Regions from separate parts of the Homo sapiens genome. Here region 2 is linked to region 1. Evidence: fine-mapped expression QTL. A gene starts in region 1. The other region holds a variant in brackets. All regions are shown on one strand. Distances are between the middles of the regions.

The links.
Region 2: its variant is fine-mapped to the expression of DELE1 in tibial artery (GTEx, PIP above 0.99).

What each region holds. Positions count from the first base shown.
Region 1 is chr5:141,920,665-141,928,992 of GRCh38, reverse strand. DELE1 (DAP3 binding cell death enhancer 1) reads right to left here and starts at 5,122. Exons shown (of 12, transcript NM_014773.5): 1 at 5,021-5,122; 2 at 4,298-4,412; 3 at 3,466-3,583; 4 at 695-842. The coding sequence starts at 5,051. RefSeq lists an enhancer at 4,728-5,241.
Region 2 is chr5:141,953,712-141,962,039 of GRCh38, reverse strand. It overlaps PCDH12 (protocadherin 12), which reads left to right and starts at 3,838. Exons shown (of 4, transcript NM_016580.4): 1 at 3,838-7,068. The coding sequence starts at 4,189. It also overlaps a transcript of RNF14 not described here. RefSeq lists enhancers at 3,166-4,071, 4,072-4,978. The variant T/C (reference allele first, on the strand shown) is at 4,380.

The sequences.
Region 1 (8,328 bases):
CCCAGTACCTAGCACTTTCTTTGATAGCAATATTGCTAATGATTATCATCATAATAAGGACAAGAACTAATGCTTAAACTAATAATTACTACACACTTACTATGTGTCAGGCACTGCCCTAAGTCCTTGACATGTATTAACTCATTTAGTCCTCCCAAGAAACCTATGGGGTGGGTTTTATTATTACCCCAATTTATAGATAAAGAAACCGAGGCAGAAGGAAGTTAAAAGTGACTTGTTCAGGGACATAAGACTAGTATGCAGCAATTTTGGGACTTGAACCTCTATAATCTGACTCCAGAGCCTCAACCACTAGGCTATGTTGCTTCTGCACCATGGCACATAATAGGTGCTCAATAAAGATTCATTTATTTATGAATGACTGAGTGACTGACCAGAGAATAATTTAACTGGTTGAATGTGGGCCAGGAAGCCACACCCAGAATCTAAAGTAGTCTGGACCCTGTGGGCCTCCCTTGGTTGGAGGTGATGGGAGGAAATGGAAAGACACTGAGGGGCAGGTGTGGCCCATGCCCTGGGTGGATAGAACTTCCCCACATTCCTCTTCCTCTGACTTCAGATAGGAAAGGCAAGGAGCTGCTGATGGCTCTTTTCCTGAGGTGTGTCCAGAGACGCTTCCTGGCCCAGAGAAACGCCCAGCCCAGCCCTCCTGTCCCCAGGACTGAGAACTCACAGGAGCATGGGTGCCACAAGGGAGATGAGAAGAAACGGTCCAGGGGACTGTGCCAGGAGCAGTGTTCTACCCGCTGAGGTCCTGCTGGCAGGGATGCCTGGAAGTGGATCTGCCTTGCCAGCTGCAGGGCCAGCACGGCCAGAGTGCCCTGGGAAAGACAGCACGTTAAGGACACGGTCCTTCACCAATCAACTCCATCAGACCCGGCCTTATTCTCAAACATCACTTCCTCAGGAAATCCAGGTGGGGCAGCTCCCCGACTACAAACTTTCACAACACCCTAACTTCTCTGGAGCCCTGACCACACTGGCATTTAAACAATCATCTCTACATTTATTTATCTAAGGTCTGTCTCTCCTGTTAGTCTATAAGCACGACATGGGCAGGGACCATGTGTGTTTTACTCACCAATGTATCTCTGGTGCCCAAGTACAGCACAGTGCTAATATATAGTAGGGACCTAATAAGTACAACCTGAATAAATGCTTGATCAAGTGACTAAATAAGCGAAGACTAAGCAGGCAAAAAGATAATGGGGTAGGTTGGCACCTAGTTGCAAATATAGCAACAGGTCAGAGTTCCCCATTAGGCTCTCTTTCCAGTCTTGCACAACCCCTCCTTCCACCAACTCCCATTCCCCCAGTGAAGCCACCCCAGCACACACACATCTCCAGGTGTAAGCTTTGTAAAGGTGTTTCTTCTCTGACAGGTCTGCAGAAGACCTGAGCTAGCTCTTATCCCAGAGACTCCTTGGTTTTCCCTGTCTCCTGTCTCTCCTTATGTTATGCTTAAGAAGGTTGACCCAGGGTCGGGTGCAGTGGCTCATGCCTGTAATCCCAGCACTTGGGAGGCTGAGGCAGGTGGATCACTTGAGGCCAGGAGTTGAAGACCAGCCAACATGGAGAAACTCTGTTCCACTAAAAATACAAGAATTAGCCAGGCGTGGTGGGGCACACCTGTAATCCCAACTACTCGGAGGTTGAGGCATGAAAATTGCTTGAACCTGGGAGGCAGAGGTTGCAGTGAGCCAGGATCGCACCACTGCGCTCCAGCCTAAAAAAAACACACAGGTTGACCCAGATACTTACTTGTTGCTCCAGGCACTGCATACAATAGCAAGTAAGACAGACATAATTTCTGCCCTCATGAAGTTTATATCTTGTGTTTAGAAAGACAAAACACAACTACAGAGAGAAATAGAGTAATTACTAGTGATGTTAAATGCCAAGAAGGAAACTAATCAGAGAGTTACACAGAGCATAAAAGGGGTCCTGACAAGACAAGGAGTCAGGGAAAGCCTGTCTGTGGGGGTGACGTGTGGGCTAAGGCCAGAAGAAAAGGCACCAGCATTGTGAAGAACAGAGACAAGTATCCATGGTACTGAGGACAGCTTGCGTGCAGACCCTTTCATATGAGCAGTAGTGACAGAGCACAGGGATGGCATTGGGACTTCTGGAATCCAGGCCCACTTCCTACTTCTCACTATGGGACAGCCCTAGGGCTCAGATCTTCTTTGGCAACATGGGAAAATGCTCCTCTCTTCAGGGTATGATATGGCCTTAGTCCACAGCTCCCCATAGAGGGGTAACCCTGTCATGGAGACATCCCAGGCTCAGCTCTGCTGATGACACCAATTTACAGATGAGAAAGCCAAGGGTCACACAGGTCAAGTCATTTGTCCAAAGTACACAGCACGAAAGCAGCAGGGATGAGCTGTGACAAACATGAGAGTGATGTGTGTGTCAACTTCATTCAGAAGATCTTATAAGCAGAACTTCCACCTGGAACATTGCCTGAAAAGCGAAGACTCTGCCCTATGAGACCTAGTGTTCACTAGTAAGAATCTGACCTTATAGATCAGGTTCAACAAATATTTTTGAGCAACTATTACGGGCTAGGCTCTGTATTTGATGCAGCAACCAAGCAGTAGAACATGAACTCCAGAGTTAAATCTGGCTCCTCCACTTAACAGGTATGAGACCCTACGCATGTTACCTAATATTTCAGAGCCTGAGATTCCTCAGCTGTAAAATGAAGGTGATATTTCCCTTGTAAGATTTTTGTAAGGATTACACAAGATAATGCATGTATAATACTTTACATTAATAAATAATGCTATAAGGCCGGGCGCGGTGGCTCACAGCTGTAATCCCAGCACTTTGGGAGGCCGCGGTGGGTGGGTCACGAGATCAGGAGTTCGAGACCATCCTGGCCAAAATGGTGAAACCCCGTCTCTACTAAAAACACAAAAATTATCCAGGCGTGGTGGCACGTGCCTGTAATCCCAGCTACTTGGGAGGCTGAAGCAGGAGAATTGCTTGAACCCGGGAGACGGAGGTTGCAGTGAGCCAAGATCATGCCGCTGCACTTCAGCCTGGGCGACAGAGAAAGACTCTGTCTCAGAAAAAAATAATAATTTAAAAATAAAAAAAATGAATAATAAAAAAAAGATGCAATGTATTATTATTTATTGTAAGATCCATGAAGGCAAGAATGTATCTATCTTGTTCTCTGCTATGTCCGTAGTGACTAGCAAAAATGCCTGGCCCAGACAAGGTGTTACATAAATGTTTACTGAATTAAATGAGGAAAACATACATGGCGGGGGTGTGGAAAGTGGCAATATCTCCTTGAATATGCTCCAATACCATGGGTTACTTGTTAAATGGACACAGTGATTCCCTAGCCCTTGTTCCAGGTTCGGCTGTATACCCATGAAGGATCATTCTCATCTACACTGAAGGTCAAGGACCAGGCTGGGGAAGCCTTACCCAAGATATGGCATCCCATAGGGTGTTCGGGGAGACACGGGAAGACATCCATTGGAAGGCATCCTTCCATCCATGGGACCTTGGACCCCCGCTCGTGCCTGGGCCATGGGGACCTGACCTAGATGATGAAATAAGAGGCTATCAAGTAGGGGCAAAGGGAGACCAGGGACTGGGTGCGGTGGCTCACACCTGTAATCCCAACAATTTGGGAGGCTGAGGTGGGTGGATCACGAGGTCAGGAGTTCAAGACCAGCCTGGTCAAGATGGTGAAACCCCATCTCTACTAAAAATATAAAAATTGGCTGGGTACAGTGGCTCACACTGTAATCCCAGCACTTTGGGAGGCTGAGGCGGGCAGATCATGAGATCAGGAGATCAAGACCATCCTGGCTAACATGGTGAAACCCCGTCTCTACTAAAAATACAAAAAAAATTAGCCAGGCGTGATGGTGCATGCCTGAAATCCCAGCTACTTGGGAGGCTGAGGCAGCAGAATCGCTTGAACCCAGGAGGCGGAGGTTTCAGTGAGCCAAGATCGCGCCACTGCACTCCAGCCTGGGCGACAGAGCGAGACTCTGTCTCAAAAAAAATAAAATAAAATAAAAATTAGCAGGGTGTGGTGACGGGTGCCTGTAATCCCAGCTACTCGGGAGGCTGAGGCAGAGAACTGCTTGAACCTGGGAGGCGGAGGTTGCAGTGAGCTGAGATTGCCCCACTGCACTCCAGCCTGGGCGACAGAATGAGACTCCATCTCAAAAAACAACAAAAAAAAAAAAATAAAAAAAAAGGGTGACTAGGGGAGGAAATGAGTGGTAAAATGGCAGTATCTTACCTGTCGAGGTTAGGCACAGGAACCAGCAAAGTGGAGGAGGTAGTCTGAGGCCCATCTGGGCTGGTGGACTTAGGAGTCACCCTCCAGAGGCTAGGTCCCAGTGTACGGGGAAGAGCTGTACAGAACAACCAAAACTCAGGCACCTCAACAAGAACCCAGGAATCACTGTCATCTGCCTCAGCAGAGGTTCTTAAACATGGATACACATGGGAATCTTTTATCTACTACAGATTCTAGGGTAGTACCCCAGAACCAATAAACTAAGATTTCTCAGGGTAGAGCATCCACGTTTTTTAAAAGCGCCCATGTGATTCTGCTGGTCTCCTGTGGATGCCAACCACTGTTCTAAGATGACCAAACGTTCATACATATACTCTCACTAATGTTTGGGGCTCTTTGACTCTAAACCTCTCCTCTCTTCACTGGCTATGCCTACTCCATTGGCCCCTAATCCTCTTTCATTCATTCAGTCCACCATCTCCTGCCATTGGACTCCTCCCCCTCCCAACAGTCCTACCAACTTCTTGGACTCCACCCTCTTCTAGCTAGGCCCATCCACATCTCAAATTCCAGCAGCCCCTGACTTCCCCGCCCTCTTTCAAGCCCCGCCTTCCTTGGCTCTAACCCGGCCCACGATCGCTTCGGCTGTTTCCTCGGGCCCGCCCCCACTCCAGTTCGGTCTTTGCGGCCCAGAGTGACGCTGGTTGCTTGGACGTCCCTTACCTCGGCCCAGGAGTCCCGGGAGGCGCCACATGTCGCTGCCAGCACCACAGAGAGCTCGCAGCCGAAAGCGCGAGACCAACCCTTGGGACAGCGGCTAGAAAGGCCGCCGCGATGCCCCGAGTGGCCGAGTACCCGAGGAAGCTCTGAGCTGGCCAATTAGAAGGGAGCCCGGCCGGAAAGACGGCGCTGCAGAGAGGAAGTGCAGGGCGGAGGCGTATTCGGGGCCAGCGGGGCGGTGACGTGCGGCAAGGGCATGGGGATGTGGGCCCAGGCTTCCGTGGGGGATGTCCTTGGCGTTCCCAAGCCGAGGCAGGGGACCGCAGGTGGCGAAGCGAGCCACCCGGAAGCGGGACCTTCGGGAAGTGGGGCTGGAGCGGCTTCAGGGAAGTAAGAGGACCTTGCAGACCGTGAGGCCGCGAACCAGGAAAGGCTTCTCCAGGCCCTAGGCTTGAGGAAGTGGGAGTAACCAGGCTCCATGGGCGGAGGAGAGGACCCCCGGGGTCCCACAAATGAAGCCAGTAGGCCGGGCTTCCGTCCAAGGCCACCTGCCTGGAGATGCCAGGCCAGGGCCCGACTGCGTAGGCGATGAGAAACCGCACAGGGCAAGGCTTTGATTCTGGGTTCTAGCTCCGGTCCAGCTTTATCTCACTGTGCAGCTTCATGCCAACCCCTTACCTTGTCGGGGCCCCAATACGCGCCAGATAGGGTCAAATGGAATGACTGGCCTGACAAGCTGAGATTCTTGGGTAGCTCCTTTCAAAATACCTGAGACACCACCCGCGCCCTATTAGAACCCTCGTCTTCAGACGTGGCAAAAGTTATGTATGTGTTTGTTCTTTTGTGGAAAAGAATAGTTCCGTCTGGTCCCGGTGGCTCACGCCTGTAATCCCAGCACTCTGGGAGGCCGAGGCGGGCGGATCACCTGAGGTCAGGAGTTTGAGACCAGCCTGGCCAACATGGTGAAACCCTGTCTCTACTAAAAATACAAAAATCAGTTGCGCGTGGTGGTGGGCGCCTGTAATCCTAGCTACTCTGGAGGCTGAGGCAGGAGAATTGCTTGAACACGGGAGACGGGAGGTTGCAGTGAGCCGAGATCGCGCCTGGGCGACAGAGTGAGACTCCATCTCAAAAAAAAAAGGAAAAAAAAATAGTTCCTTTCACCACATTTGAATCCGTGAAATAACGGAGCTTACATTCAAGTATAAGATGTTTAGATTTCCTCCCTATCCCCTTCCTCCAGGTATGTGACTTTAAGGTGAGTGGAAGTTGCTACCTGGGGTAAAAGTGTACTGGGGGCACCTACTTTTAGACCGAGGCATGTGGCTTGAAAGTTGTATTAATATGTTAGACAACTTTTTTTTTTCTTTTGAGACGGATTCTCTGTCGCCCAGGCTGGAGTGCAATGGTGTGATCTCGGCTCACTGCAACCTCTGCCTCCCAGGTTCAAGCGATTCTCTTGCCTCAGCCTCCCAAGTAGCTGAGATTACAGGCGCCTGCTACCACATCCTGCTAATTTTTGTATTTTTAGTAGAGACAGGGTTTCACCATGTTGGCCAGGTTGGTCTCGAACTCCTGGACCTCAGGTGATCCTCCTGCCTTGGCCTTCCAAAGTGCTGGGATTACAGGCTTGAGCCACCGTGCCTGGCCGTTAAAGAACTTTTGAGCCATATATCAGCCCGTTCTAGGATCTGAGAAGACAGCTGAGGAAAGAGCATTTGTGGCCTCCAGGAACACGGTCCAGTGGATTAGTAGTGGGCTTTGGAGTCCCACAAATCTGGGTTGGAATCACAGCTTGCTTACTTCGTAGGTATGTTATCTTGTGCAGGTTCCTTAACCACACTAAGTCTCAAGAGCTTCATCCGTAAAATAGGGAAAATACCTCATGCAATTGTTGTGAGGTTTAAATAAAATAATATGTTAAAAATGTTTAACTTGGTGTTTTGGGAATACCCTTCAAAAAATAAAAAATAAATAAATAAAAATGTTTAGCATAGTTCCTGGCACATAGTAAAAGCCCAGTAAGTGTAAGTTGCTATTAATTATATTAGTAGGGGAGGTAAGCAGGCAAGTGTAATAGGTTAGGTTCCCATAGAAGCATGAACAATGGATTGTGGGATCCCTTGGAAGGCTTCAGAAAAGTAGTTGCATTTGAGCGGGGCCTTTAAATGTGAATAAGAGCTTGCCAGGTGGAGAAGGAAGAAAGGCATTGCAAGCGGAGGAAACAATAAATAAAGGCCCAGAAGTTTGAATGTTGGACAACTATTCAGAAATAGCCTTGCTTCGGGATTTGGGACGGCAACCTTTCACATTCCTTGTGTTGCTGTCCCGAAAATAAAGTAACAAACAAGTATGCTGGTTTGGCTGTGTTCTTCCTCCTGCGTCTTTTGTACCCTCCTTCCTTTCAGACTATCCATAGTTTGTGTCATTTCTCAAGGTTCAGCCCAATCCCAGCTCTTCAGTGTAGACTCCTCAACTGTTTGAGCCCTCCCTGCTCCCTACTTTTCCCAATTCCTATAGCACTTAATTTCTTACTACACAGTTTAGCAGTAATTATATGCTGTCTTGGTATTTATCTCATTTGTGTAACTCTAGCCTTCCCAGTTCTCTCCTTTCAGGACAGGAATAGCATTTCCCTATTCCGTGTCCCACATAGGGCTTGACATAAATTGTCAGCCCAAAGAATATGTCCAAACAATCCCTGTTGACAGAACATCTTGTACTAATGATTATTACAGCCAAGGGTACCAGACCCCAGCCAGGGGATTTACTGATTTGAGTGGAAATGTATTCATTGCAGATACAAACATTCATTGAGGGCCCTCCCTGTTTGAAGCTAGTTGAAAAGTTTTGAAGGAGAGACTAGGACATCTGCCCCCATGTATAGAATGGCATTATGGCATCTCTTGTCCCCATAAACAGAAACATCAGACCACTTGTGTGAGGGTAGATGGCGAGGGTGGCTGGAGCCCACAGCAGATCACCTGTTGAGTGCAGCTCACGGGAGTGCTGTTGGTTGAATGGCAGCTGCCTCAACTGCCAGACCCCAAACTCTGTGGTTTTGGATTGTGGCTCAGTCCCTCTACACAGTCCCTCAAGTTGACTCAATCCTCCACAAAGGTAAACTGACACTGGGAACCTATTGCCTGCTGTCCAGTTAATCACCTTTCATGATGACTACACATGCCATTGTGTACTTTGTGTACTGTCACTACAGTGAGTATTCTAGATACTTGTTGCCTTCATTTTTGTAGGCATTCTTAATTTGCATTAATCAAATATATGACAGCTTATTTAGTGCTAAAGGATAT
Region 2 (8,328 bases), 33 kb before region 1:
CACCTCCCTACCTGGGATAAGCCGGAGGATGCTTCTTGGCTTCCCCAAAGCTGTCTTGGTGGTGATGCTGTGGCAACCACAGGGGAGATTCACGAGGAGAAAGCCTGGAAGACCAGAGCCCTGGAAGTGGGGCAGCCAGCCCAGCGGGACATTCGTAGGGGCGAGGTGTGATCTCAGCCTTCATTCAGCTGGCCTGGGAGTCCTCCAAGGGTCAGAGTCACACCTTACTAGTCTGACCCCTCAAGGTTCCTTAGGACTCCAGGTGTTTTAAGAAGATTCTCTGAACCCCCACCCTTCCCACTTCACCCCTCAGCCCTCCCTGTGGTTAAGAACCCAAGTGTGAACAACCCCAAGTTTGGTGGTTAGTGAGGCCTTCAAGCACAAACCCTAATCCTGCCCTTTTAAAAAAAATATTTTGGACTTAAGGGAGGCTGTCCTCAATTGTTTCAAACCTATTTCAGAGTACCTCCACTCCTTCAAACCTATTTTCAAAACTCAGGAAAACGTCGCCTTTCCAGACGAACTCTAGTGACAGCTCCATTCACCCCTTGGCATTTGACTGCTAAAGATCAGCTGACCCCTGCAGCCAGAAGGAGGAGAGAAAATTGCTAAATGGGGACCTCATTTCCAGAGGTGATCACCTTAAAAAAGTCTGGGGCCTTGTTTGCCAGCTTTGAAATCTCAAAGGGTAATCTTAGCTTCATGTCCCCAGTGTGAATAAAACAAACAATAAAAACCACCTATGAAATCTAAATTCAAACTTTCTTGCGACCTATGCATCATTTTTTTGCATTCACATTCCCAGTCAAAACACAGACACACACACACACACACCCAACAGATATATAACTGCATGTAAAATATATATAGATAAAACAATGTCCTCTGAAGAATATAAATGTTAACACAAGTAAAATTATCATGAATTCCATAACTCCTTCTGTGGCCTTGGTCCACGTTAGGTTTTCCATTAAGAGATACTATTGTCATCAGTGAGTAGCTTCTCCTGTTGTATTCTTCTGTGTAGCACGGGGCTGGAGCTGTGGATATTTATGAACCCCAGGCACCCACTTCCTGTTTTCGTGGCTGTCCCCGGTCCCTGCCTCTGTGCCGTTTTCTCTGCCTTTGGCCACCAGATGGCGCTCTGGAAACGAGTTTTCTGCATCAAAGCTCCCCTGCATTACTCTCAACTAGGCTCCCTCCCTCTTCTCTGTTCCCTTCCAAGCCATTTTCCAGGGTGCAGCCAAAAGGCCTTTCTGGAGGGCACATCTGTGTGATCTTGGGCAAGTTACCTAACGCTGTGTGCTCAGCATCTTCAATGTGATGGTATGGCTGTGAGTGCGTCATGAGAGGATGTAGGTAAAGCACTTAGGACAAGGCCTGGCATGTGGTCGCTGTTCTCATTATCCTGCGTAGAGCTTTTCAAAAGCACTCCACGACCTTCAGGACAAGGTCTAAATTCTTAGCCATGGGAACCCAGGCCACTGCATCATCTGAGGACCCCTGCTTATGTCCCCTGCCCAACCTTCCTCCCTACACTACTGCACTGACCCTCTTGCAGCACAGCCAGGAGCCAGCCTGCCCACTTCGGGGCCTTTGCCCATTTTGCCCCTGCCACCAGCTTTGCCTGTCTCCTGCCTATTCAACTTCCTCGGGCTCACTCCTCCAGGTCCGTCAGGATTCAGCGTGTGCCCTCCATGAGGAGCCTCCCGGACCCCCAGGCCTGATTCCAGAGCCATTCTACTGGCCTCTCGCCTTTCATTTTCCCTGCCCCCACCTGCGACTGTCAGCCCCTTGCCTTGTTCACTGTCAGGCACACAGGGGGACGATTGCGGGGCGGATAGTGAGACTGTCACGTGGGCTGCCAGCAGGGGGCAATGGGCACCCTTGTGTCCCTGAGCTCCCAGGGGCTCCTAGTAGCTTAGGCAGCACCTTGCCCACACCAAGCTGAGGGAGACCTGAGAAATGGGATTCCTGCCAAAGAGGCAAAGAAAAAAGTGAAGGGACAAATGCAAGGCCATCTTTGCCATTTGCGTATGAGGCATAAAACTTGGAAGATAATAAACAGCAAAATCATAGTCCTTATGTGCTGAGTGCTTTCTCTGAGCCAGGCCCTGTGCTGAGTCCTTACCCCACCTTGTGAGATCGATGACAGCCCTCAGAGAAGGAAACAGAGGCTAGGAGAGGTTAAGTCCCTTGTGCAGTGTCTCAGAGCTTGTGAGTGGCCTGTCTGTCTCCAGGGCCATGCTGTAGGAGGTGGCCCTGGATTCAGGCCCCTTGCTATGGTTTAATGGGTTTCAGTGAAATAGTTGGGAAACCTCAGGAGTGGGATATGGAGTTAAGGGAAAGAAAAGCCAGAGAGAAAGGGAAGGAGTGCAGGTGACTGTCCCTTAGCCACCCCAGTCCTGATGACCACAGGCCTCCATGCCAATAAGCCCTGACTAGTGCCACTTGGGTCCAAACATGGCATCTCTGGCCCCAAGGGCTTAGTAGCAAACACCCATCTAGGGAAGCTGGCGTTCATTCTCATCACCTCAAATGCTTCATGAGCCTCAGGGATCAACCTTGAAGTGGGTATAAGGCTGGGAGAATGTTGGGGGCAGCAAACTGAAGGGCACAATAAGAAGCAATAAGGCCACCTCAAAGCCCACCCAAGCAAACTGCTCATTCACCTCCTTCCTTCCTGAATTTCACCTTATGAGGAGGTGAGTGGAAGATAGGGTATCCCTTAAAACATCTAAAAGGAGAGTTGGGGGCAGCAAAGGAGATGTGCTTCACGGGACTCTTATAAACAAAACTGGGGAGAGAAGAATTGGAGGAAGGGGGAAAGACATAGATGAAAGGGAGGGGAAGGTGTGGGAGAGGGAAACGTATAAAAGCTTCCAAGAGGAGTGGGAGGCTGGGGGTTCCCCAGACAGAGACTCAGTCTGGACCAGATGCAGAGAACAATGGACTTCAAGGCTGGAGGGGGGCAGAAGGGAAGCGGGAGGAGAGCCACACGGTCAAGTTGCACAGGTTCTTGCAGCTTCTGGAATCAAGACCATGGGCACCCTCATAAGTCAGTGTGGGCAGGGACTGCCCCAGGGCCAATCCAAGATCCAGAGGTAGCCATAGGGTGTGACAAGTTGTGCAGATTACAACACTCACCCCTTGCAATAACGTCACTGCCTGTGACTCGGGGCCAGGCCCAGGCCAAAGCCCTTCCTACATCATTTCGTTTAATCCTCACAGTTTCCTGCTGAAAGGGCTACTATTCTTACTCCCATCCCCACTCTACAGATGAGGTAATGGAGGCCCAGGAAAGTTAAGTGACTTGTCCCAGATGACACCGCTGGTAAGTTGCAAAGTCAGAATTTGAACTCAGGCAGTTTACCTCTGATGGCTGCTCTGTTAATCACAGCTGCTTTCCAGTGAGACAAAAACGGGTGATCAGGGCAGAGTCAAGACAGAGAGGTAAACAAGATTGGGAAAAAGACAGGAATGAGAGGGGAACAATGGGGGAAAAGATAGGAACAAAGAGAGTTGGGGAAGGGGAGAGAAACAGGAAACATGACTTGCCCGGGAGGGGCATCAGTCCACGTGCAAGCAGGTGGAGGCTCAAGTTTTCTGCTCACTTGGTGATGCAGAGGCTCCCTTTCCCTCAGCAGCCGCCTTGCTGCGTGGACAGCAGCTTCCCATCTGGCCTGTCCCCGGAGCCCCGGCCTCATCCTCCTCAGCGGCAGGCCACTTAGCTTCACAGGAAATGCTCTTTCTCTAATTGGCATTGAAACTCACAGCCCTCCCTTTTCCTGTAGGTGGGGTTTCCATAGGAAAAAGCTGCTTCTCTGTTTCCCCAGCCTAGCAACTGTTTGGCAGTCAGAGTCCCACATCCTGCTCAACTGGGTCAGGTCCCTCTTAGACCAGCTCTTGTCCATCATTTGCTGAAGTGGACCAACTAGTTCCCCAGTAGGGGGTCTCCCCTGGCAATTCTTGATCGGCGTTTGGACATCTCAGATCGCTTCCAATGAAGATGGCCTTGCCTTGGGGTCCTGCTTGTTTCATAATCATCTAACTATGGGACAAGGTTGTGCCGGCAGCTCTGGGGGAAGGAGCACGGGGCTGATCAAGCCATCCAGGAAACACTGGAGGACTTGTCCAGCCTTGAAAGAACTCTAGTGGTTTCTGAATCTAGCCCACTTGGCGGTAAGCATGATGCAACTTCTGCAACTTCTGCTGGGGCTTTTGGGGCCAGGTGGCTACTTATTTCTTTTAGGGGATTGTCAGGAGGTGACCACTCTCACGGTGAAATACCAAGTGTCAGAGGAAGTGCCATCTGGTACAGTGATCGGGAAGCTGTCCCAGGAACTGGGCCGGGAGGAGAGGCGGAGGCAAGCTGGGGC[T/C]GCCTTCCAGGTGTTGCAGCTGCCTCAGGCGCTCCCCATTCAGGTGGACTCTGAGGAAGGCTTGCTCAGCACAGGCAGGCGGCTGGATCGAGAGCAGCTGTGCCGACAGTGGGATCCCTGCCTGGTTTCCTTTGATGTGCTTGCCACAGGGGATTTGGCTCTGATCCATGTGGAGATCCAAGTGCTGGACATCAATGACCACCAGCCACGGTTTCCCAAAGGCGAGCAGGAGCTGGAAATCTCTGAGAGCGCCTCTCTGCGAACCCGGATCCCCCTGGACAGAGCTCTTGACCCAGACACAGGCCCTAACACCCTGCACACCTACACTCTGTCTCCCAGTGAGCACTTTGCCTTGGATGTCATTGTGGGCCCTGATGAGACCAAACATGCAGAACTCATAGTGGTGAAGGAGCTGGACAGGGAAATCCATTCATTTTTTGATCTGGTGTTAACTGCCTATGACAATGGGAACCCCCCCAAGTCAGGTACCAGCTTGGTCAAGGTCAACGTCTTGGACTCCAATGACAATAGCCCTGCGTTTGCTGAGAGTTCACTGGCACTGGAAATCCAAGAAGATGCTGCACCTGGTACGCTTCTCATAAAACTGACCGCCACAGACCCTGACCAAGGCCCCAATGGGGAGGTGGAGTTCTTCCTCAGTAAGCACATGCCTCCAGAGGTGCTGGACACCTTCAGTATTGATGCCAAGACAGGCCAGGTCATTCTGCGTCGACCTCTAGACTATGAAAAGAACCCTGCCTACGAGGTGGATGTTCAGGCAAGGGACCTGGGTCCCAATCCTATCCCAGCCCATTGCAAAGTTCTCATCAAGGTTCTGGATGTCAATGACAACATCCCAAGCATCCACGTCACATGGGCCTCCCAGCCATCACTGGTGTCAGAAGCTCTTCCCAAGGACAGTTTTATTGCTCTTGTCATGGCAGATGACTTGGATTCAGGACACAATGGTTTGGTCCACTGCTGGCTGAGCCAAGAGCTGGGCCACTTCAGGCTGAAAAGAACTAATGGCAACACATACATGTTGCTAACCAATGCCACACTGGACAGAGAGCAGTGGCCCAAATATACCCTCACTCTGTTAGCCCAAGACCAAGGACTCCAGCCCTTATCAGCCAAGAAACAGCTCAGCATTCAGATCAGTGACATCAACGACAATGCACCTGTGTTTGAGAAAAGCAGGTATGAAGTCTCCACGCGGGAAAACAACTTACCCTCTCTTCACCTCATTACCATCAAGGCTCATGATGCAGACTTGGGCATTAATGGAAAAGTCTCATACCGCATCCAGGACTCCCCAGTTGCTCACTTAGTAGCTATTGACTCCAACACAGGAGAGGTCACTGCTCAGAGGTCACTGAACTATGAAGAGATGGCCGGCTTTGAGTTCCAGGTGATCGCAGAGGACAGCGGGCAACCCATGCTTGCATCCAGTGTCTCTGTGTGGGTCAGCCTCTTGGATGCCAATGATAATGCCCCAGAGGTGGTCCAGCCTGTGCTCAGCGATGGAAAAGCCAGCCTCTCCGTGCTTGTGAATGCCTCCACAGGCCACCTGCTGGTGCCCATCGAGACTCCCAATGGCTTGGGCCCAGCGGGCACTGACACACCTCCACTGGCCACTCACAGCTCCCGGCCATTCCTTTTGACAACCATTGTGGCAAGAGATGCAGACTCGGGGGCAAATGGAGAGCCCCTCTACAGCATCCGCAGTGGAAATGAAGCCCACCTCTTCATCCTCAACCCTCATACGGGGCAGCTGTTCGTCAATGTCACCAATGCCAGCAGCCTCATTGGGAGTGAGTGGGAGCTGGAGATAGTAGTAGAGGACCAGGGAAGCCCCCCCTTACAGACCCGAGCCCTGTTGAGGGTCATGTTTGTCACCAGTGTGGACCACCTGAGGGACTCAGCCCGCAAGCCTGGGGCCTTGAGCATGTCGATGCTGACGGTGATCTGCCTGGCTGTACTGTTGGGCATCTTCGGGTTGATCCTGGCTTTGTTCATGTCCATCTGCCGGACAGAAAAGAAGGACAACAGGGCCTACAACTGTCGGGAGGCCGAGTCCACCTACCGCCAGCAGCCCAAGAGGCCCCAGAAACACATTCAGAAGGCAGACATCCACCTCGTGCCTGTGCTCAGGGGTCAGGCAGGTGAGCCTTGTGAAGTCGGGCAGTCCCACAAAGATGTGGACAAGGAGGCGATGATGGAAGCAGGCTGGGACCCCTGCCTGCAGGCCCCCTTCCACCTCACCCCGACCCTGTACAGGACGCTGCGTAATCAAGGCAACCAGGGAGCACCGGCGGAGAGCCGAGAGGTGCTGCAAGACACGGTCAACCTCCTTTTCAACCATCCCAGGCAGAGGAATGCCTCCCGGGAGAACCTGAACCTTCCCGAGCCCCAGCCTGCCACAGGCCAGCCACGTTCCAGGCCTCTGAAGGTTGCAGGCAGCCCCACAGGGAGGCTGGCTGGAGACCAGGGCAGTGAGGAAGCCCCACAGAGGCCACCAGCCTCCTCTGCAACCCTGAGACGGCAGCGACATCTCAATGGCAAAGTGTCCCCTGAGAAAGAATCAGGGCCCCGTCAGATCCTGCGGAGCCTGGTCCGGCTGTCTGTGGCTGCCTTCGCCGAGCGGAACCCCGTGGAGGAGCTCACTGTGGATTCTCCTCCTGTTCAGGTACCTGGGGCATGGGCAGCTCTTTCTCTGGTCACTCCTGGACCACCAGAAACAGAATCAGACACCCCCATAACCTGCACAGTCCTCATGTTTCTTCCTTAGGCTCACCTGGCACTTTCTGATGCTTTGGGTAGCAATGGTTCAGGGCACAGCTTTGTGATCGGCTGAACTTAGCTGTGTGATCCTAGGCAAATTCCTTACTGTCTCTGGGCCTTAGTTGTCTTATCTGTAAATTAGAGATGATAGTAAGAGTATCTACCTTGTAGAGTTGTCCAGAGGATTTGATCAATTAATTCCTATAAGGCATTTATGGTGCCTCACAAGTAGACACACAGCAAAGGTAGTGATTAAGAGTATAAGCTTTGGGCAAGGTTACCTGGGTTCAAATCCTGGCTCCACTTCTTCCTAGCTCTGAACCACAGAGGAAGTTAACATCTCTGTTGAAGATGTCTATGTTAACACCACCCATCTTCTAAGTTTGCTTGAAAATAAAATGAGTGAATGCTCTTAATGCCTGTAGAACAGTGTCCATCTGACATGTAGTCAGTACTCAGCAAATTATTACTATTACTTCCTCAAAGCACTTCTCCATCTCCACTATTTGCCTGCCTTCATCTCATCTGGGCAACTTCCCTATGAAGAAGGCCAGCATAGGCATCATTGCACCCAAACCCAGGTGTTGCAAATAATTTGTCTGAGACCCCAGAGCTTTCCGGCTGGGCCTGCGGATGGGGCAGTGGAAATTACCTTAGAACTTAGCAGTTAGGCAGATTGGAGTTCAGATTTCAACACAGCCACTTAGGAGCTGGGCAACCTTGTACACGTCCTTCAACATCTGAGCCTCATTTTCCTCATCTATAAAATGGGGATTATGAGACCAAACTTACCCTGTGTCTGCCTCCTTAGAGTGTGAGGGCTAAATGGGATGATGAGTGTCAAAATGTCTAAGGACCTGGGATTTTCTAGACACAAGTGGGGAAACCTTTCCAGGGATGATGCCTGATCTCACACCCATATCTGCTTCTGTGAACCTCAGATATTTTCACTGTGCCAGGCTGCCCGCCCAAGGCACACTTCTGTTTGGCCAGGCTATCAGCTCAGGTTTCCTGTGAAGCAAAACACAGTTTCCTTCCCTATTCCCTCCTCAGGAAGCCACCTGGAGATGGCCCAGCTGTTCTCTTAGGAATCTTGCCCTGGGATCGGTGCAGACCCAGAGGCTGCCAGAGCCAACCATTCATTTATCCTTCCATTCATCCATCC